3 separate regions of the Homo sapiens genome follow, and all the other regions are reported to be linked to region 3. Evidence: microRNA targets listed by miRTarBase, many of them from high-throughput screens and not tested one by one. Region 3 holds a microRNA gene; each other region holds the end of a gene's coding sequence. Distances are from middle to middle.
The links. Region 3 holds the annotated microRNA hsa-miR-128-3p (UCACAGUGAACCGGUCUCUUU, at 3,775-3,795, shown strand). A microRNA usually pairs through its seed, bases 2 to 8, with sites in the 3' UTR of a target mRNA and lowers its output. Matches are read on the target gene's strand: a 7mer-m8 pairs with bases 2 to 8, a 7mer-A1 pairs with bases 2 to 7 and ends in A, and an 8mer does both.

Region 1: miRTarBase lists SUPT7L as a target of hsa-miR-128-3p. Seed matches in the 3' UTR shown: 7mer-m8 at 2,316-2,322.
Region 2: the mRNA of MPRIP is a reported target of hsa-miR-128-3p. Seed matches in the 3' UTR shown: 7mer-A1 at 5,120-5,126 and 7mer-A1 at 6,209-6,215.

What each region holds. Positions count from the first base shown.
Region 1 is chr2:27,647,465-27,654,873 of GRCh38, reverse strand. SUPT7L (SPT7 like, STAGA complex subunit gamma) reads left to right here. Exons shown (of 6, transcript NM_014860.3): 6 at 1,127-4,065. The coding sequence ends at 1,389. It overlaps GPN1 (GPN-loop GTPase 1), which reads right to left. Exons shown (of 14, transcript NM_007266.4): 13 at 6,931-7,038; 14 at 3,363-4,759. The coding sequence ends at 4,674. Among named protein-coding and RNA genes, the nearest start is that of SUPT7L, 12 kb to the left of the region's middle. RefSeq lists an enhancer at 1,068-2,267.
Region 2 is chr17:17,184,394-17,191,802 of GRCh38, forward strand. It overlaps MPRIP (myosin phosphatase Rho interacting protein), which reads left to right. Exons shown (of 24, transcript NM_001364716.4): 24 at 430-7,409. The coding sequence ends at 501. Among named protein-coding and RNA genes, the nearest start is that of PLD6, 18 kb to the right of the region's middle. RefSeq lists enhancers at 408-908, 1,696-1,895, 1,926-1,995, 6,738-7,405, 7,406-7,409.
Region 3 is chr2:135,661,672-135,669,080 of GRCh38, forward strand. MIR128-1 (microRNA 128-1) reads left to right here and starts at 3,726; the gene lies at 3,726-3,807. The region is part of intron 19 of R3HDM1 (R3H domain containing 1); the gene reads left to right. LOC124907893 (a long non-coding RNA gene) reads left to right here. Exons shown (of 2, transcript XR_007087245.1): 1 at 1-4,886; 2 at 6,090-7,409. RefSeq lists an enhancer at 3,044-3,143.

The DNA of each region.
Region 1 (7,409 bases), 110 Mb from region 3:
GGGCTTCCGGCTGGGCGCAGTGGCTCACGCCTGTAATCTCAGCACTTTGGGAGGCTGAGGCGGGCGAATCACGAGGTCAGGAGATCGAGAACATCCTGGCTAACACAGTGAAATCCTGTCTCTACTAAAAATACAAAAAATATGCTGGGCGTGGTGGTGGGCACCCGTAGTCCCAGCTACTCAGGAGGCTGAGGCAGGAGAATGGCATGAACCCAGGAGGCGGAGCTTGCAGTGAGCCGAGATTGCACCACTGCACTCCAGCCTGGGCAACAGAGCAAGACTCCGTCTCAAAAAAAAAGAAATAGGGCTTCCCAGTTAGAGGTAGCTGGCTTCTTTTTCCAGACTCTGTGATTACCTTAGGAGCCAGGACAACTGACTGGTTACGTGTCAGTTAGGTTGCAAATTAGTCTGGACACTCAGTTGTTTACAAGTATAAATTGTCATCAATGCACAAATGACTCAAATAGCAAATCCTCAAATGTGGTCTAAATGGAATTAGGTCATACTTTTAAAAGTGTTGGGCAGAGAGCCTTTCACTATGGAAGAATAACCATAAGAGAACAGCATTGCTAGAATACATAGAGAGATGCGAGGGCCAAAGAGAAATTGTTGCGGACTTCGGGACCATGTCTCTTCAAAGAAGACCAGGTAGAGAACTGCTGTTAGCATTATGTAGTGACCATTAACTTTTCATAATGCAAGAGATGACCAGAGACCCAAACAAAAGGCAGGAAAACAAGATGGCCCCATAAAAGAAGGAAGGAAGGACAGGCAAACTAAACAACTGAACAAGTCCTGTGGTTGTGCATGTCTTTGGGCTGTGAGACAGGGGATCTTTCCACCTGCCTAGTTTCACTTCCCTGGTTTAGGGGAAATGGGGGTGGGTGAGGTAGAGGAAAGAAAGGTAGAAGAAATGGAAAAGAAGATAATCAGAGCTGGTAATTTTTTGGGATGGTTAACTTTTTGAAGCAGAGAGTAACAACCATATTCTCCAGCCAAGTACAGAATCAGAGTGAAAACTGAGCTCAAAGCATATTAGTTGGTTCTGAGTGATATATTTACTCTTTGTTCTACACTTGGCTACACATATACACTTGGTGTATGTCCATCTTTCCTCTGTTTCTAGGTGCAGAGGTAAATGCTTCTCCTCTTTGGAATCTGGCCCATGTGAAAATGGAGCCTCAAGAAAGTGAAGAAGGCAATGTCTCTGGGCATGGTGTGCTGGGCAGTGATGTCTTCGAGGAGCCTATGTCAGGCATGAGTGAAGCTGGGATTCCTCAGAGCCCTGATGACTCAGATAGCAGCTATGGTTCCCACTCCACTGACAGCCTCATGGGGTCCTCCCCTGTTTTCAACCAGCGCTGCAAGAAGAGGATGAGGAAAATATAAAAGGAAAAGAGGGAGATGTTTTGTCCAGACCTACTAGACCCAACAGAAAAGGTTTTTGTATTAGAATCTGTTTCCTTAAAAATTGATTTGACTCCTGTTCTTAAACACAAGTGGTTTTTCCTAATTCCAGAGGAACTGGACGTCACCAAACAAGGTTGCATTTTACTTTTGCATCCAGTTTTTATAGTTTTCCACAACCAAGCCACCCTTCACAGATAAAATATGATGCTGGCATGGCAATCAGACCAAAGCACTGTCCCCAATTGTTGTCTTAACTATGACTAGACATGTTATACAGCCATTTATCTTGTACAACTGAGAAGAATCATACTTTGACCTACCTTGTAGAGATGTGAGGATTTAGATGTTTGCTAACTTCAAAACTGTGCTTGAATAGACTAATAATATATGCTCATATCAGATGTCAGTTTTCATTTAACTTGATTCATTTTTGGCTCAGGTCATTGGGAACCCATTACTAATACCTAACAGGAAATAGCTAAACACAACACACCTTATCTATTAGTCACCTTCTTAAAACTGTTTTTGCTACTTTTGAAGTGTCTTATTTATAAGATCAGAGGTCTGACACCTTTTTTGCTTAGACAGCTCTCTATCTCATCCATTTATTTTCTTCTCTAGACTTACTCCATCTCTCCTCATCCTTTTGCCTTTGTTATTTCTGCTCGGACTCACATACTTTCACCATATACATATTTTCAATTGTTTCTTTCCTTTTCTCCTTTGTGAGCAAAGCAAACAAGTACTGTCCAAGGACAGCCTTGTGCATATTTCATTTGTTGCATTTGCTTGGTCATCAGAGGACAGCAGTCCATTAAGCACACTTTGCTGCTTCTACTGTAAAGGCAGCCTTTAAAACATAGCAATATGCACCTTTCAACTTTACATCATGTCCTGAACAACATCACTGTGGTTACTCATCCATCAGACTATCTGTATATATAAGTACTGAATCAGTATTTATTAAGTAAATGATGTAGCACTGTAGTGATTAGGAATCATTAGCAAATGTGTTGCTTCATGCCTTGGTGATGGATGCCAGCATGTTAAACTGCTGAAGTTTGATTTTCTGATGCAAAATATATCTTGTAAAATTTAGACCACTCCTTTAATGCAGACCAAAATAAGGCACAGCTTTAATTCATTATTGAATGCCTTAAATGTCCCAGGTATTGAGAATAAATGAATATGATACAAATGAGGTTATAGTTTAACATATAATTTTAAATTTGCCAATTGTAACTCTTTAGCACATTTCTCTAAACCCTTTCTGTCACAGTCTTTTTTTTAATTTATTTATTTATTTATTTATTTTTGAGATGGAGTCTTGCTCTGTCACCCAGGCTGGAGTGCAATGGTGCAATTTCGACTCACTGCAACCTCTGCCTCCCAGGTTCAAGCGATTCTCCTGCCTCAGCCACCTGAGTAGCTGGGATTACACGCACATGCCACCACACCCAGCTAATTTTTGCATTTTTAGTAGAGATGAGGTTTCACCGTGTTGGCCAGGCTGGTCTCAAAACTCCTGACCTCAAGTGATCTGCCCGCCTCGGGCTCCCAAAGTGCTGGGATTACAGGCGTGAGCCACTGCACCTGGCCTCTGTTGCAGTCTTATCTTCATTTTCCTTTGTTTATAATGAAAGTGGCGATTAGGCAGTTAGTTTCCATAAAGTGGCCGTATGGGAATTTAGTTCATTCATCCAGCAAACATTGAGTACCAATTATTTGCTAGGTCCTGTGCAAGGAATACAAAAATGATTAAGACTTCTTCCTTACCCTTTTGGAGCTTGAAGCATAAGGAAGACAAGTTATTCTGTAAGGAAGATAAAGCATTCAAAAGTACTACAGAGAAAAACCAAGTATGCTTGAGTTTTGCGAATGTTCTCCTCTTAAAGAATAGCTTCAAATTTTGAGACCAGTGGTTCCCACTAAGTATAGAACATTAAAATTAATACTTTATAATAAAACACTTTTATTGCTGCAGAATGTTAAACTGCATAACAGGCACCAGATGGTCAAGACGAGGGAAATATGAGAAGGCAAATGATGTGAGGATTAGTATCTTGAGATTCACCTGGTCTGGAATTATGTCATAGGCTACTATGCATCAGAATCACATGGAGGGCTTTCTAAAACAGACTGCTCAGCCCACCCCCAGGGTTTCTGAGTTCATAGGTTATAAGAGGTAAGTTGAACAATTCCCCAGATGATGCTGATGCTCCTGGTCCACAATGTGAGAACCACTAAGTTGGAGTACTGACTCATAGAGATAAAATTCTTTGAAAGAAATGTACTGTTTTAAGATACTGTAAAATGTGGAGGCAGGGCAAACGTTTATAAGGGCTGTTATGTATGAAATGTGCCTCTGACCCAAATCCACGGACTTTGCGAAAATCACCAAGGAGACTTTGCATTAAGTTCAGAGTACAATACAAACTGGGCCTAGCTCTGTATTTAGTCAGTATGTGCACGTGGGAAACTTTAGTAAAATATCACCTCCTTATTGAGACAAGTTTGGACATCTGGCCTTAAGCCTCTGTTGAACAGGAGAAGTGAAGCTGTTTGCAATTATATAATTTTCTAATTTGAAATCATGACAAGCAGTCTTAGAACAAAGTTAAAATTAAAAAGTCTTTATCCAAGTCACCAATGAAACAGGATTCTGATTCATTAATCATGTCTTGCCCACTTTTTTCAACAAACCTGACGTCCTATAATGAGCTATACAGTGTGAGGCATATTTCATAGCAACGTTGGTTGATTGCCAAGGAGACTCTGCCACCGTTCTGGATAAGCTCATGTTTCCCTTTTCCTTGGCTGCTAATAGAAGGGCAACTTACAGTGCAGGGTCAAGAGCAAGAAGCTGGGGGAGTAGAGGCTATACATCTAGCCTAATAATAGAGATCTGAGGTGGTCACCAGGAGACTACGTTCTTTTGATTCCATTCCTCAGCAGCAAAAGTACTTGAGTTCAAATGATAAAACTTGAAGTTGTAGGCTTGGAAGAGTATCAGCTCAGTATATCCTTCCTTGCATAAATACAAGGGAAAGGCCAAGGAATAATCAGCATTAACCTGCCAGGTCCAAGGGTCTTCTATCCCTGACTTCATCTGAGTCACAAGATTTCTCTAATAAGAGAAACTTTGCTACTCTGAGGAAAATTATCCCTTATGGGAGCCCCCAGTTCAGAGGTAAGAACAGTTCTTTCACGTGGAGGTCCAAAATTCTGGACTTCTAGAAACAAGTGAAGTGTGCTAAAGTCTCCTATTTATTGTTTCTCTTCCAGTATTGTGCCATCGATTCTTGCATAAAATTCTGGAATGCTGGCTCTTCATGGCTTTCCTCTGTAACTGCAAGGAAAAAAGGGCAATTCTTTTTCAACTCTTTCATTAGACAAACTGATTAGAGCCCGTCACCCATCCATCAGAAAACAGTACATTACTTCTAAGAAACTTAAGTACTCACTTCCCTCAAAAAGGAAATGTCTCCTAGAAGCATGCTCTATCATGCTGCCCAAAATGTAGTTTCTTTATAAGTAGAAAGAATACCTCCCTCATAGTAGCTAAAATAAGGTCCCACTTGTAGGTATTTTTAACCAAGAGAAATGAAAACATACGTCTACACAAAGATCTATTTGGAAACGTTTATAGTTGCTTTACTCATAATAGCTAAAATCTACCCAAATATCAGTCCACTGGGGAATGGATAAACAAACTGTGGAACATCCACAATAATGGAATATCACTCAGCAATAAAAAAGAACATACTGATACATGCAACAACATGGAGAGACTACACTACTGAGTCAAAAAAGTCAAATGCAAAAGGCTAAATACTGTGATTCTATTTCTATGGCATTCTGGAAAAGGCAAGATCAAAGGAACAGAAATCAGTCAGTGGTTGCCAGGCACTAGGTGTTCAGGATGGGGACTGAAAAAAAAGGGGCATGAGGAAGTTTTGGGGGGTGAGGGAAGTGCTCTACATTTCAACTGTGATTGTGGTTACAAGAAAGTATATATTTATTAAAGCTCATCAAACTATATACTCAAAAAGTGAGTTTCACTGTTGGTAAACTACATCTTAAAAAATCTGATTAAATAAGGCAATTTACATGTAAAACCCAGCCTAAAGAATAAGGAGATTTGCTCTTGGCCATAGCTAAGACCTAAATCGTATGGTGGTTTTCGTGTTTTTTTGTTTGTTTGTTTGTTTGTTTTTTGAGATCAAGTTTCACTCTTGTTACCGAGGCCTGAGTGCAATGGTGAGCTCTCAGTTCACTGCAGCCTCCGCCTCCCAGGTTCAAGCAGTCCTCCTGCCTCAGCCTCCCAAGTAGCTGGGATTACAGGTGCCTGCCACCAAGCCCAGCTAATTTTTTGTACTTGTAGTAGAGATGGGGTTTCACCATGTTGGTCAGGCTGGTCTTGAACTCCTGGCCTCAGGTGATCCGCCCACCTTGGCTCTCAAAGTGCTGGGATTACAGACGTGAGCCACCGTGCCCGGCCTATGGTTGTTTCAAGAATCAGATTCTGGCAGGGCATGGTGGCTCATGCCTGTAATCCCAGCACTTTGGGAGGCCGAGATGGGCGGATCACTTGAGGCCAGGAGTTCGAGACCAGCCTGGCCAACATGGCGAAACCCCGTCTCTACTAAAAATATAAAAAATTAACCAGCTGTGATGGCATGTGCCTGTGGTCCCAGCTACTCTGGAGGCTGAAGTGGGAGAATCACTTGAACCCGGGAGGCAGCGGTTGCAGTCAGCTGAGATCGTGCCACTGCACTCCAGCCTGGGCAATGAAGCAAAACTCTGTCTCAAAAAAATAATAGTAACAATTAGATTCTGCGCACAGTCCATAAAACTATGCCAAGTGGAATTTGGGTTTCCAGAGCCATTCTATCCTTACTGTTTTAGTCCATATAACCTTATGTATTATTTGTGTTTTTTGTTTTTGAGATGGTCTTACTCTGTCACCCAGCCTGGAGTTCTGTGGCACAGTCATAGCTCATAATAGCCTCAAACTTCTGGGCTCAAGCAACCCACCCACCTCAGCCTCCCAAACAGCTTGAACTACAGGTGTGAGTAACCATGCCCAGCTATTTTTTTCTTTTTTGTAGAGAGTGGGACTAACTATGTTGCCCAGGCTTGTCCAGAACTCCTGGCCTCAAGCAATCCTCCTGACTTGGCCTCCCAAAGCAGTGGGATTACAGGCATGAGCCACCACACCCAGCCCTTACATATTCTTAAAACAAAATACTAATAACAACAAACAAAAGTCCTGGATCCCTCAAACCAAGTTAGGACCTAAAGATAAGAAGACACAAGACCAACGAAAGGCCTGTAATCAGCTCAGTATTAACCATCCAGTAGGCAGGACAGGAACTCTCAATATAGGAAACTCTTTTCTGGTGCTGTATCCTTTATCCACTATTACTGGCTACACGCTTAAAGCAAGAAACTCCTGGGCAAACAATGTGAGGATAAGCAGATGCTCTGTTGCCACGGGCCACCTCAGCCACCTCTCACCTCTGTGGTCAATGTCATCAGTATCGCTGTCTGCTTCCTCATCCTCTTCATCCAAGGTTCCTCGAGTCAGGATCAAATCAGAAGGGTGCAGCACAGGAGATAAGCTGTCTACAGTGAAAACACCTATCAGTGATATGCCTCCTCAAAAAGGTGATCTTGAATCACTAAGTAACTATGATCATAAACTGGCAGGATGAAAGTGCTCATGATACATATAAACGCAGGATCTTACCTCTTCTAAATGTATTGTTAATACCACTTAACATTTCTATAATAGCTTAGTTCACAAAGTGCTTTCATAAGGCAAATAGCCCTAGGAGTCCCATTTTTTTAAGCTGAGGGAAATAATTTTCAAGAAGCTTGTCTTACTAGTAGCATCATTCTTTTTTACTGGCTCACAGCTTGGAAGGGGTGATGGTTTTTCCTATGAAAGCTAACAACATTTGAGCAGATCCAGTGTGCTGGTGAGTCACAGTGAA
Region 2 (7,409 bases), not on the chromosome of region 3:
CATCTGGTCCTCCTCAGCTGAGGCTGTCAGGTGAAGAATCTCTGGAGCTGGATGTGGACAAATCCATTCACAAGACAAGACACGGGGATGGGCAGTCTCCTTGCTCATTGCACTGTTTTCCCTGGCTGGATTCGTTTGATCACTGCTTCTCTAAAGAGCCCTAAGCTCAGAATTTAGCTGCTTAAACACATGGTCTTGTCTCTCTGATTTTTTTTTCCTTTTTCATCCAAGTAATTTTGTGAAGGGGAAAACATCCTCCAATAACAGCATTTCCCGGGGACTCTCCTCCTGGCATGCCCACTAACCGCACCTGCACCCGGCTCTCTGACTGATGCCGGCTCCACCAGCGGTCCGGTCTGGTCCGGTCCGGTCCAGTGCAGGGGGTCTAACGGTGTGTTTATTTTCTCCTCCTGCTCTGTCTCTACCCAGAGTCTGAAGGAAGGCCTGACGGTGCAAGAACGGTTGAAGCTCTTTGAATCCAGGGACTTGAAGAAAGACTAGGTGTGTCCCATCCAAGTTGAGCACGCGCCTTCCCCAGCTTGCAGCAGCACACCCCAAGCGCTGCTTTTCACCTGTACCTTTGTTTTATTATTATTATTATTATTGCTGTTGTTGTCATCGTTAACTGTGGGCATGGAATGCGTGAGGCTGGCTTCTGGGTTGTCCACACCACTCTCTGCTGTGTTGACTTCCTGTTGTCTTCATCAAAGCTTTTTTCCGTGGTATTCTAAAATTAGGCCAGCAGTGGGGGCTGGGAGGGCATCTGTGTTAGTCCTTTCCTGGCTGTGACCCGCCACACTCACTGTCAGTATTAAGGCCCAGCAGCCTGTTGATAAGCTACCCTGTCTCACCATGTGCTGGTGTGGAAACGGGGCCCAGCCAGCACGCCTCAAGGTAGATGGAATCCCCACTGGTCAGAGAAAAAGCTATGCGGACACTCCAGCTTGGCCTGGGTCACAGCACTGACTCCTCACCCGCTAGTCTGGCTGTTAAGAGGAGAAAGTGCACTGCCTTCCAGCCCAGGAGGAGGACAGCATTTTGTATTTGTTCCACTGATGCAGCTTAGAACCACACCCCTGAGAGTCGTGGCAAACCTTTCACAACCTGGAAAATGTTGAAAGCAACCATTCCTATTTTTGTTTGTTTTTTATTAAATCTTGCACAAAATCCCCGGCCCCTCTCCTTCCTTCCTTCCTTCCTTCCTCCGCTCGTTCCTTTCTTGGTCTCCAGTAACCCTGGTCTTTTCATAACTGCTCGAGATTGTTGACCTGCAGCCCAGGTTTCAGACTCTGATTGCAAAAAACAAATGAATTCCCCCCAGGAATCATTCAAAATGGGGGAAGGTTTGGGGGTTTGGGTTTTTTTTTTACCTTTTGGAAAAGAAACCGTCACATTGCTTTGGAAAAGGTTGAGAGGAGACCCCTGTTAAGTCAAGAAGAAAGTACAGAGGATGTCAGAATCTGATGAGAACAGCACATTAGTGTTTATTGAGACTCCGATCTTAACTCTCATTTAATTAATCTGAGCTCTGAAAACCTATCTTGCAGCATTTATCTTTAAAAGAGCCTGGTTAAAGTAAACCTATACTAACAATTTTGCTTTTTCTAACAGTTTGAGGAAGACCTTTTTAACCACCACAAAACATTCTATGGCAATTCTTGAAAATCTCTTAAATTGGAGTCTATTATGGCCCCATGAAAACCATTAATCCCATTAAGATAGGGAGTATAAACCCCTGGCTGGTGGAACAGGTTCTGCTACTTTAGGAGCAAGGTGGGGTGTGAGTAGATGGTTTTCATGCCAAGAACATGCTTTCACTTTGTATTCATGCTTGTGTTGGTGTGATGGTCTCTGTGGGTGGGTGGATGCTTTGGGCGTTGAAATCTAGAAATCCTGTTGCTCAGTTTCTAGATGAAGTCATGAGCAAGGCCATCAGTGGAGCTCTGGCCCCGCCCCCAATGTGCAGAAGGGCCGGGAGCAAGGCCTGGAGTTTTCATGTGTTTTCAGACCCAGGTTTAGGTGCTCTCTTCTCACTGAAATAACTAAGTGCTCTCCACTGGCATCGAGCCCTTTCCACAAGTTTTTAAGGCTCTTAACCCACACTTTCACTCCTCTGCTACTAGTCTTCAGTGTTGTTAACAGCAAGAGAAAATTGGGTTTGTTTAAAAATCTACTTCTCTGAGGTGGCACAGTTGCGTAGCTGTAGTCCCAGCTACTCAGGAGGCTGAGGTAGTAGGATTGCTTGAGCCCGGGAGGTCGAGGCTGCAATCAGTCATGATCGTGTCACTGCACTCCAGCCTGGGTGACAAAGCAAGGCCCCATATCAGATATAGATATACTTATCAGACCCCCCCTGACCATTTAGATTGGCAGTGCTTTGAGAAATGCACTATGACCTTTCTGTGTCAATGGGAATATACAGAAGGAACATTCGGGACCCCGCTGTCCCCCACAGCCTCATTGTTGTCTCCAGGACACTGCTGGGTCACACGAATGCTCCAGGACAGACAGGGACCTGGAGTGCATCAGGATCTGACCAGATAGGAGTTTTTGCCTCGTGTCTGGGTGCTACGATTTTGTGCCGTTCTCTGAGGTCCACCACCTGCCCTTCCTGGCATGGTTTCCTTCGTGACCATCCCTGCTGCCCCTGGGGGTGGACCCCACTGGCCCTTCTGCAGACAGCTCCCTGCCTTCTGCCCTCCAGGGGGTTCTGGCCAGAGTCCATGCTTGGAGACAGGATCATCTGCCTTCAGCCCTCACAGTGCTTTAAATTAAAGCAAGTTTGCCCATAGGACAAAAGAGCATTTGATTCCCTTTTTTCTGTCACATATCCCTTGAGGCTGGACTTCAGGAATCCTGGAAAATTAATATGAGTGCAGCATGTGAGGGGTCAGAGACAGGCCAGCAGGGCGTCTGCATTCCTCCCTGCCACAGGTCTCTCCCCAGAGGCTGGTTTAGTGTAGGGTATTGCCAGGAAACGGACTGAGGCTGCTTTGCTAAGAGCTCCTGAAAATGCCCTGGGCCTGTCCTGGCGTTTCTGAAGAGCCCTCATACAGGGACAGCCACCATCTGGGTCAAGGAAGTCTGGGTTCCCTGCTGGTGGGCTCCATCCTGCGATGGAGTGAACCAGGCGAGAAAGGATGACGATGTTCTTCATGTTGCACCTGGACATGCCCCAGGAACAGAGACTTGCCCAGGTGGCAACACTGGCACAGATGTTGACGGCTGCCCAACTGGTGCCACACTGAGCAGGGAGCCTTGTGCTGCACAGGGCTGGGCCCTCTCTCCAGTTTCCTTCCTGCAGGCATCCAAATACCCTGGAAGGGATTTAACCCCTGAATTCCAGAGGGAAGAAAGAAGAACAGTGAAGAAGTAGAACTGGTTTCTGTATGGGGAGAGGAAAGTCTTAGGGACAGCTGCAGGCGGGGTCTCAGGCTGCTCCTTGGCACCAGCTACACAGTAGTGAGCTTTCCCAGCTTTACCGATGAGGAAGAAGTTCAAATAGATAGACTTCAGCATTTTAATTATTTTCCTATAAATGTATTTATGTGTAGTATGCTAGCACCAGCCAGTAAGCTGTGCCACACATATGAATGGGAAAGCGAGGCAGTTGTGCTCGTGTGAGTTTCTGCAGGCTTGTGGGTAATTACCTTGTGTGCACGCCTGCACGTGCAGAATAGTCACTTTCTGCTGGTCAGTTTCTTTATCCACCCATGGTGCCCCAGCCCCAGGCAGGTGTGGAGACCAGCATTTCAGAGGACGCGCTGTCCACAGCCTCCCGGGTCTGAGTGGATCATTGGGCAGGGGTGGAGACAGTGCGCTGCCCTCTGAGCTGGAAGCCTGTGCTTCAGGGAGTCATAATGGGCCTGTGCTAAGTGGGTGATGCAGTGGACATCCCAGGGCGACTAGAGGTGGCAGTATCGCGAATTTGCAGGTTTATTGAACAAGAGGTAACATCGGAGAGGATCTTGCCTTCGGATTCAGCAAGTATGAAGGCAGAAGAGCATGGAGAGCAAGGCCCCACAGCCTGCTTAGTGAGTTGGAAGGCCCAGCAAGAACCTGTTTCTGCAGCAGCCACCAGCTCCCATCACCCCTTGACCCTCCAGCTCATGCTGGAGAAGAGGGAATTTTGGCTGTTTAAAGAACACAGTTGTGAATCTCAGAATGTGCCTGAAAGGAATACTGACAGATAAGGCCGGAAACAAAACTGATGGCTTGAAAAACATTTTTATGGAATGTATTTACTATCATTTTGTTTTACTATAGAGGTAGATGGGACTCTTAACTTTTGGGTACATGGAAACATGCTGAAAACTGAACACAATCCTGATCATCACTCCTGCCTGGCTGTCTCCTGGGAGGCTGCCGGGTGCCACGGAGCTGGGACACAGCAGAGCCCGCTAGGTGTTGCAGGGCCCTGGAGGCCAAGGCCACCCTGTGTGGGGTCCCTGTTGGCAGCCAGGTCCCTACACAAACAAGTAATCCTGTTTGGCCTCCTAGGTTTTGCATATGACCTGCAGCCTAATTTGGGGTGTAGGGGAAGCTCTGCTGGCCCCTGCTCCTTTGTATGTTGGGTGACTTTAATGGCTGGCCACATACCCCTTTCTCCCAGCTACTCATTCACTGACTTGGGTAAGTTCTAAGACAGTTCGCACTTAGAAAAGAATGTGACACATCAACATTAACTTTTCCTGAAAAGAAGAGTTTGCCTAACATGGTCCTAAAGAAGCTTGGAATTTATAAGACTTTCCTTTATAAGATATAGTGGGGGTTTTTTTGGGTGGAGGGGGGTTGTTTTTTGTTTTTTGTTTTCAAGACAGAGTCTCGCTCTGTTGTCCAGGCTGGAGTGTAGTGGCATGATCTCGGCTCACTGCAACCTCTGCCTCCCAGGTTCATGCCATTCTCCTGCCTCAGCCTCCCGAGTAGCTGGGACTACAGGTGTCTGCCGCCACGCCTGGCTAATTTTTTTGTATTTTTAGTAGAGACGGGGTTTCACCATGTTGGTCAGGATGGTCTCGATTTCCTGACCTCGTGATCCGCCTGTCTCGGCCTCCCAAAGTGCTGGGATTACAGGCGTGAGCCACCACGCCTGGCCTATAAGATACGGTAAAAAAAAAAAACTGTGACCCCTTTGTCACTAAGGGAGAAAGAAATTAAGTATTGTCAAAGTTCTATAAAGAATGGAAATGTATGATATTATACTTCAAAGGAATTTGATGTTGAAATTTTAAAGAAAATTTGTCATGTTGATGAGAAGCTTCACTTTCCTGGGAACTTCATTCGTTTTAGGGCATGAGATAAAAGTCCTGGCTAGGGGAGCCATAGGTCTGTTGTACAAGGAATTTGCTTTCTAAACAAGTTGTAACTTGCCCTAAGGTCCCTGTTGGAGCACTAAGAGGTGACACAGGCCAGAGACAACGTTTCGTTTCCCCTTCCCTGCAAGCTGGGATCAGCCCTGTGTTTTCTCCTTTCAGCTGAAGTGAGCGAAGGTTCTCAGTGCTGGCAAAAGAGCCCACTTTCTAAAAGGACTTGGGAAGAAAGCTGCTGGGAACTTGCTTATTAAAAAGTTCCTTAGAATTAAGGTATCTACCCACTGTTTTCGCACCTTTCACCTTCCTGGGCTTTCCTGCCCTCCAGCATTCTTCTCTAGAGAGGTTCCTAGCCCGCTCAGCGCGAGCGTCTCCAGTAGGTAATAGCAGCTGAACGTGGGTTTTCCACGGACTTCAGGCTTGGAGGTGCCATATACAAGCACACTTCTTCCTTCCCCTGGCTTCTCCATGCCACCACCCACTTTAAAGATGTAAACTCAGTAGATTTTTCATCCAGTGAACGGTCATCTTCACATCGAAAGGTGAAGGCCACCACTGTTCTCAATGCCAAGCAACAGAACGTTCTGAGATGGCCGTTCTTCCTTGCACAGCAGCTACGGCAGGTTGTTCTGCAGCCACCCCTTAGAGGGGGCTCTTCGTTTTACCTTTGTACAGTTCTTGTGTTTACACATTTGGGCCAAACAGCTTTCAGCAAGGGCATGTGTCCACAGCTGATGGGCAGTTAAGAACCAGCCTGAGCTGAAGGCTAGTAATACCGTGCTGTAGGCTCTTTAAAAGGAAAGCCTGGCATAAACCCAGCATGGAAAGGAACATTATCAGTTATCTCAAATTTTGTCTGCCAGGGACAAGACCCTGTTCATTCTTTTGCCCTTTTCAGAACTGTGAGCTTCAAGTATTCTTGCTTCTCTGTAAAGGGAAGACATCTCCCTTCTCTGAAATCCTTCAACAAAAGAAAAGGCTCTTGGCAGGGTAGGGGAGTCAGTAGCTCAACACTAGATCATCCCTAGAGATGGGGCAAGTTTCTGTCTGAACACGTCTTGGGTCCGAGTCCTTAGGTGTTCGGATGCAGTACTTTGTGAATACTTAAGCTACTGCATGCTTGGTGTAGCTTGCAATTTCTCTGTATTTAAAAGCAGCTGTGTTTATTTTCTTCAAAATAACCTGTATATTATTTAGAGCAAGCAATGTAAATATTACTGAGAAGTTACTGCAGGGATTTTTGTGACAGAGTTTGTATGGGTTTTTAAAAAAATCTTAGACACCCCTTTTTAAGATGGGGAGAACAGGGTTGACTGCACCGTTGAAGCCCGCCCAGCATTATAAGGAAATGTTTTTAATGACTGCTGCATCTTTGTAAAACGTTTGGTCATCTAACAGATGGTTTTAAAGTGTACAATATCCAAAATAACGATAGCCCTGTATCCATACATTGTTTCATTGAAAGAATTCTCTATTGCCTCTTCTTGGTAGAGCCAGAGTCCTTAAGGAAAATCAGGAAAATTAAGAAAATGATGGTGCCATCTTGACCAGACTTCTGCACAGTAATTTAACGCTATCCTAGGGAGACTTGGTTGAAGGCACAGTTCTGGGATCAGGGTCTAAATGTGCAGTTTCTGAGAACCTTCAAGACCACTCACTGGGCAGGGCTCTGTGGAGCACTGGAGCTGTTTGGATTCCCCAGCCCTTTGGTCATATCCTGGAATTCCGTGGAGGCTGCAGAACTTAGATGCAGCTGTTTTTTACAGCACCTATTTTTGTCAGATTGGTAAGGAAACACTGAGTCACAGAATACTTAAGAATTGGAGACTCCAGTAATGTAGGATGGCCTGAGAGGACGTCCAAGTCCCAAGGGGTGGACACGGCATGTTCCTCGGGCACAGCCTCAGTGGGGGCCTTCCCCAGGCGCAGCTCGGCCACCTGAGGAAAGGGTGTTTCGGAGGCGCAGCCACACACACAGCGCTGGCAGCCTCACGGTCACGCCCATCACTCCCTGCCCCCCACTGCCCTTGAGAAGTTAGTGGTGTCACATCCTTAGTTTTATAGACAGCTAGGAATAGATTGTGAAGAACACTCAGTTCA
Region 3 (7,409 bases):
TGAAACTGTCTTTGCAGCCTGATAAATCACCTATGGTAACAGCAAAAGAGAGGCAAGGCGAGGCAAGGTGACTTATGAATGGCTAACCAGAAGCAAAGATCAAAACCACCTAACTTGGATTGAGAACCCTAGTCTAGGGATGATATTTTGATCTCTTAGTAGGCATGCCTTTAAAAGAAATGATGTACTTAGCATATTTTCTGTGTTTTGCTTTTCAGTTTATTGATTGATAGTGAAAAGTATTTTTAAACCAAATACAATCTAAGGCCACTTAAATGAAATTTATTAAAACTCAGCATTGTTTTTGTTTTAGCACTTTGCAGATTTTCTTCAAGCATTCAGTGAAAACAATTTTGATCTCAGTGTATAAAACTATCTTATTGATTTTTTAATGAACTCATTTCTCTGTATGCTTCTCACCTAGATGTGTACTTCCCAGATGTTTAATAAGGTATTTATTCAGCCTTTTATAACTCTAGGAGTTGAAGTGGAATTTTATCATTGGTTTCTTTAGAGCTTTCTTAACTGCTTATCACTATTGGAGGCTCCCTGACTATGTGAGTGTGACTCACTGAGGAACCCATAACCTCCACCTCCACTGAGGCTGTTTACTGCTCTTGATATTGTGTGAAACTCGTCAGGGTTACCACCAGTTTAGGAGAAGCATCTCTGCACTGGCCCATCTGATGAATAGTAGTCATACTTCTCTTTATTGTTGCAGTCTTCAGTGATCATGATTCACTAACTTTCTGTGCTAGATATAGTTCATGCTTAGCATAGCCATGCAGGATAACTTCCAGGTCCTTAATCTGTTACCCTTAGGAGTTGTCTCGTTGTTAGTTTACAGGTTCTCCCCTTTTTAGTATGTTACTAGCCTTGTATTGTACATGTGACAAATGTTCTTCCAAAGAACATTGAATACAAACATTGGTCATTTTAGCCAAGTTAGAATTTTAGTTCCAAGCTACCTAAAATTTAATAACACAGTCCACGTCAAATAATGTAAACTAGTATATGATATAATTTCAAAAGGTATCAAAAGTTATTCTCTATTCGTGGGAACATTGGTTGTGGTACTGCTCATTAGCTTTATATACACTGGTGTTTTATTCAGAAACAATTTTCTGAATTTTTCTGGACCTCAAGTAATAGAATTTTCATATTGTTTTTTCTTGATTTTTTTCTTCCAAAATTATAACACAGACTGTAGCTGATGCCATAATAAAGAAATGTACCTTCATGCTACTCATTTAAATATCCTTGCGTGTGACTAATTAACTTAATTCATTAGTACACTCTATTAATAAGGCAAGCAAAAATCCTTTGTTCTGTGTTTGTGTTAGCTTACTAATTTTGTTCTTCAACATGGCAAAATTTTTATCCCTGTCCATGGTCAAACTGCCTATAAAATCACTTTCAATCACAGGTTGGGACTAGTGTGCTAGTATATATGCCTCTCTGCCAAAAAAAAAAAAAAAAAAAAATATGACACTTAATAGAATTCAACTAAATATGCCTGATTGGAGGTGAAAACATCTATGTGACAGATAGCATGTGTTTATCATTGGTCATATTTTTAACTATGGGGTTTTCTCTGATGCTAGTTATGATGAGAAGGAGGAAACAATAAATCAGGTTGCATCTGGATAGTGCTACAGGCACAAAAAAGAGAATCATGTCTTTGAAAAATGTTTGACATTGTGTTTGACTCTTATGAGTCAGTCATAATATAACACTTTATAAAAGCTAGACTTGTCCTTTCAGCTGTTTTATATAGTATCCTCTTAACTTACAGCTTAAGTTAGTTGACTCATTCAGTTTGAAGAATAAAAGGAATAAATCCTCAAAGCATTCTTATCTAAAAGAGAAAGGAATTTTGTTATGCTAATAAGTATCATAGAAAATTTTCCTTTAAAGAAAAGTTCAGCAGGGCCAGTGCCAACTGTTGTGTTGGTAATTGTATTGAACCTTTTCATAGAATTAGTGGGGATTTGAACTCTTTTTTAAAAGTTATAATCTAAAGACTTTTTTATAGTTAGCTCATCATTAATTTTTATGTCAAAACTTGCAGAAGGCCAGGCACGGTGGCTCACACCTGTAATCCCACCACTCTGGGAGGCCAAGGCGGGTGGATCACCTGAGGTCAGGAATTTCAGACCAGCCTGGCCAACATTGTGAAACCCTGTGTCTACTTTAAAAATACACAAAAAAAATTAGCCGGGCATGGTGGCGCACACCTGTAATACCAGCTACTCGGGAGGCTGAGGCAGGAGAATCGTTTGAACCTAGGAGGCGGAGGTTCCAGTGAGCTGAGATGGCGCCACTGCACTCCAGCCTGGGCAACAGAGTGAGACTGTCTCAAAAAAAAAAAAAAAAAACTTAACAGAAAAGTGTGCATTTATGTTTGTATGTGCCCTAGTGTAGAAAAGTAAAATGTACTGGGAAATTAACATGATAGTTTATTGTTTTTGAGTTTTTTTACAGGTATATAGCAATTACTGTCTCATAATTTACATTTTTATATGGAAACATACTTCTGGGTTTCCTTTTGGTTTTTATTTTCTTACCTCTCTACATTCTACTATCCCAATCTGATTAAAAATGAGAAATACTTTTTCATATCTCTTATATTTGTATTTCTTGTCAAACAACACTTGCTTACCCCACAGTGTCAAGAAGCATGTTTTTTTTTAATTACATAAAAGGGTGAAACTAATTATTCAACCAAATAATGAAAACACTAGTAGACTTGGAGCAATTTTTTTTCACTGTGGCACAAGTAATGTTTAAAAGTTTGTATTTGAACTTAAAGAAATTTTGCCCTAAATTAACAAGCCCAACTGAGCAAAGTATTTTTAGACCAGATAGGGTATGGGCAGTAGAAATACAGGATCTTTCATTATTTTTCCTTTGGTGGATAGGGAGGAGGATGGGGAAATATCTCAAGGATAAAATGCTCTAGGTCTTTTATCCATGTGTCCCAGTGGACCACAACTGAAATCAGGACTAACATTACTGCTGGGGAAATGAATGTACTAGTCTTTTGTTATGAATGTGAAACTACTGAACTGTTCATTCAAAACAAGGTTGAGTAAACCCCTGTCAACAGAAACAGAAGAAACCCTGGCTACACACATAAGACTTTCTGAACAATGCACTGTATAATGGGAAAGAACAACAAAATAAAAGTCAGAATCCTGATGGCCCTTAGTCATTTGTAACTGGTGTTAGGCATATCACTTAAAGCCACTGAGTTTCAGTTGGACTCATTTGCAAAGTATGGAATTTTTACTGTGTTGTCTGTTGAAGCCTCTGTGTACTGTAAAACTCCATAATTCTTTGTGTCTCATGTGAGTCATTTCTAGTTCTAAAAGGTAGAATAATAGAGAATTGGTTTGTAACAGCTTGGCAACCAACTGTCAATAACTGGAGTCAATGAAAGCAACTATTTCAAAAGATCAGATTACTTACCAGTTTCACTAATAAAGATTTATTACTTTAAACCTTTATCATAAAATGTATGCTTTGAATACTGTGAAGTACACTGCATATAAGGAGTGTGGTATAGTATAAAGAAACTTTCTGCAGGTAGTAATTATAGTGAAGATTTTAGGTTTACAAAGCCCTAGCTGTTTTCTGTGTAGCTTTTATTATTCTTATGACTCTTGACAAGTTTGTAGCTTCACCATATACATTTAATATTTTGCAATAATTGGCCTTGTTCCTGAGCTGTTGGATTCGGGGCCGTAGCACTGTCTGAGAGGTTTACATTTCTCACAGTGAACCGGTCTCTTTTTCAGCTGCTTCCTGGCTTCTTTTTACTCAGGTTTCCACTGCTTTTTTGCTTTTTTTAATGCTGTATGAAGGTGTTAACATTTGTTTATATTTTTCATTAATTGTAATACCTTTAAATCATGCATCATACTCAGAAATAGGGATTAGAATTTAAGTGACATCTTTGGCCTAATATAATTTACCTGTTAAAAATTTGTGAAAGCTATTGCTTATTTCTTTTCCAAAGTAGATTTGGATGACAAATTCAGTTTGGTTTTGAGCTTATCTAAAAAGCTTAATGTTTTAAGCATACCAAACTCATTAGCAGAAGTCAAATATGTCTCTCCCTATTGCTACACAACTTTTTAGGGATATTGTTATATATGAAAGCATGACATCAAACGGACCTAATACACCTAAATGCATTTGAAGCTACTTGGTCTCGGTTCTTACCAACGATATAATTTAATTTTTTTTTCCAAACGATGATGTTGTTGCATACCTGTGGAAAGCAAAATGATTCTGTGAAACTATACTTTTAGTTTTGCAACCATTTGATAACTTCAAAGATTATCAATGTATTATATCTTTAGTCTTAGCTTTCCAGATAACCCAGAATCATATGGTTCCAAGTTGATTAAGCTTTGTTACCAGCAGACTATGGTAGGATCCTGATGAACGACACTATGGAAGAAACTTGTTAGGATAAACAGTCTTCAATGTGTGCATATTGTTGACAGAATTTGAAGGCACAAATTTAAGAGTAACTAGGGTGTAAAAGGCGAGCAAAGAAAAGTCAGCACTACTGGGTAAGCAGGTGAGGGGGCTTATTGATAGGAGAGTCGGCTATGTCAAATAGGGACTCAAGGCACAAAGTCAATTTCTTTACTGACAACTTTCAATCCAAGTAATAGGAATTTTGTATTTGTAAATTACTAGGTAGTGGCTCTGGCTATTCTTGTTTTTTCATTGATTTCTGTGAGCATTTCTTAGTATGTATTGTGTGATTCAGCATAGATTCAGACATTGTATAATACCTACAAATCCACCTATTTCCCTTTTCCCTTCTCCATTAACCTGCCGCCACTGAAATCTGGAGCCAAATATATCTGGTAAGTACCCACAGATTTCCTTGAGTTGTATAGACTCTTCCATGGAATAGTTCTTTAAATAGCTGTGAGCAATAAACTCTGTGTGACTGTTTTTGTTAGAATTGGTTTTTGTATATGTATATGTTTATTTCAGGCACAGGAGTGAGAGAAGAGGGGATGAGAGATGAGAAGGGATAATCAAGTGTGATGGCAATTGCATCTCCTTCCAAATACACCCATGGGGCTGGCTTTAGTTGAACTTGCCCACCTACTAAAATAGTGCCACAGACAGAAGCCCAAGATTATAAGCTTGAGGTTTTAACAATTTGGTCTTGTAGATGCCTAGTTACAAATAAATTTGGCTTTAGTAAAATGGCTCATCTTTAAAAAAAAAAAAAAAGAAAACTACCTTCACAGTGCTTCTATTGTACAAGCACAGTCTGGAAAAAAAATTAATAGGTACTATTAAGTGAAATAACCTTAGATTCATGGGTATTCTAAGCATTTCTTTAATACTTTTTGTAATTTTTCTGATTATTTCTGTGTTATTAAGAATGCTTTCCTTTAGAACAAATGCTAGTTCAGATCACCTATATAAAATAAAATCAGCCTGTTAATGCCTGTTCAATACTTTTGTGCTGAGCACTGCATTTCCTTCCTGCTCTCTTCTTGGTTAAAGTGAGAGTTAAAAATAGAACATTCTGTGGAGCCCTCCAGGGAAGTTCCTGAACCATCAGTTTATATTGTCCTAGTTCTCTTAGCTTGCAGAATTGATTGTGCTTTCCTCTGAAAGTGCTGAAAGAAATGGGATAATATTGCAACAGTGCAGTCCTTTAACAAAACAGAATGGTAGTGTTTTAAAAAAAAAAATCTATGTTGAGATCTGGATATTTATTTTGTTGTTTGGTATCACTTACTATTGGCATTTCTTACTTTACAAAATAGAGGCTTTCCCACAATATTGACGTAAATTCCTATAAAAGATATAGTGTTTTCCTCTACTTTCCAGATTAAATTCAGATGTATCACAGGAAGAATTTTTTTTAATTCTAATATACTAAAATATACTTTTTAGTGAAGAAAGAATAATTTATGTGGTAGCCAAGTTGGAGTCGGGATACTGGAAATACTCTTCTTGTAGCATTTTTGAAACCTGTTGATACTTTTCATTCTCTAGAAATCTACTTCTCCTTCCTAATCCTCAGCCTTCTCCCTCTTTTCCAGATCATTGGATTTTTCTTTCTCAAACTTGGCAGTCTTCAAACTATACTTTTGACACTATGAGAACTCTGTACCCACTCTTGCTTTTGTCTGAATAATTAGACAAGGAACCTAACCTACAATGCCACTTCTCTAGGTGTCACTCTGTAACGGTTCATGCCCAGCAGTCTGAAATTTCTTTGTTTAAACAAAAGTTCAGAGGAATTCATGAGCAACTTGAACAGTTCAAGATGTAAATTTTATTAAGCAAATGTACATAATGTGAGGCATACCTGTAATTAAATGATCCTTTATTTTATGTTAACAATTATTTTATTAATGATTTTGTCTTACATAGGCAAGAGTAAGGTTCTTATCTTTGATTGGATTAGGAGAATGATGTGGGCTTTTTTGTTTTTAGTGCTTTCCAGCTGAGTATTTCTAGTTTTGCTTGTGATTATAGTAATTTTAACCAACATAGATCCCAGTTTTATTTTCTTTTTCATTGGAACAAATGTTAGCCTGTTAATGCCTGTTGAGTACTTTTCTGCTAAGCACTGCATTAGAAAAAGACCAATAATCTTTTAGTAATCTTTAATGTTCTGCTCTTTAGAGAATATAATTCAAAATTATATACTTTTTAGCCAGTTGCTGTGTTGTATGTTATAATTATTAGAATGAGTGATAAAACATTTCATCATGATTTCTGGAAAAAACATTCATATTCCTGTCCTAATGCCAGTCGAATTTCCCTTCTGGGGTACCGATCATTCTGAGCATCAAATGTTAAATGACAATTTTAGTTGTGTTAGTTTAGAACAGTTCTTCAGACCCTGATGGCTTTCTACCCAGTGTAGTTTAAACCTGGTGAATTTTCCTGCCTTGGATGTAAAAATGAATGAAATGCTACTCAGTGGATGGAAAAAAGTCATTGCTTCACAGAACTTCAAGACTTCGCCCATAAAACGTAGCAGCTCTCCTTGCACAAAATGTGTCCAGGTTAAAGCTGGCACTGCCCTGCTGAGTAAAGTCTGACTTCTTGGCAAAGCAGCCTGACTTTGTGGAGAAGACAGCCAGTATCTATGAAAACTCTGCTAGACTAATCTTGTATAGACTCATCTGGAATGTGGCAACAGACTTTTTGAGCAAAAGCAGCCTCCGAGGCAAAACAGCAAAACTAAAGCCCAAAGGGAACATTGGAGATTCACTTGGAAATACTCAGGCTGAGAGACAGAACTGTGGGATGTGGAACCTGAAATAGTGTCACTATTTGAGCCAGTTCTTCTCCTTCCCAATTGTCTTTTGTTATGTTTTAATATTTTTAGAGATGGAGTCTCACTGTTT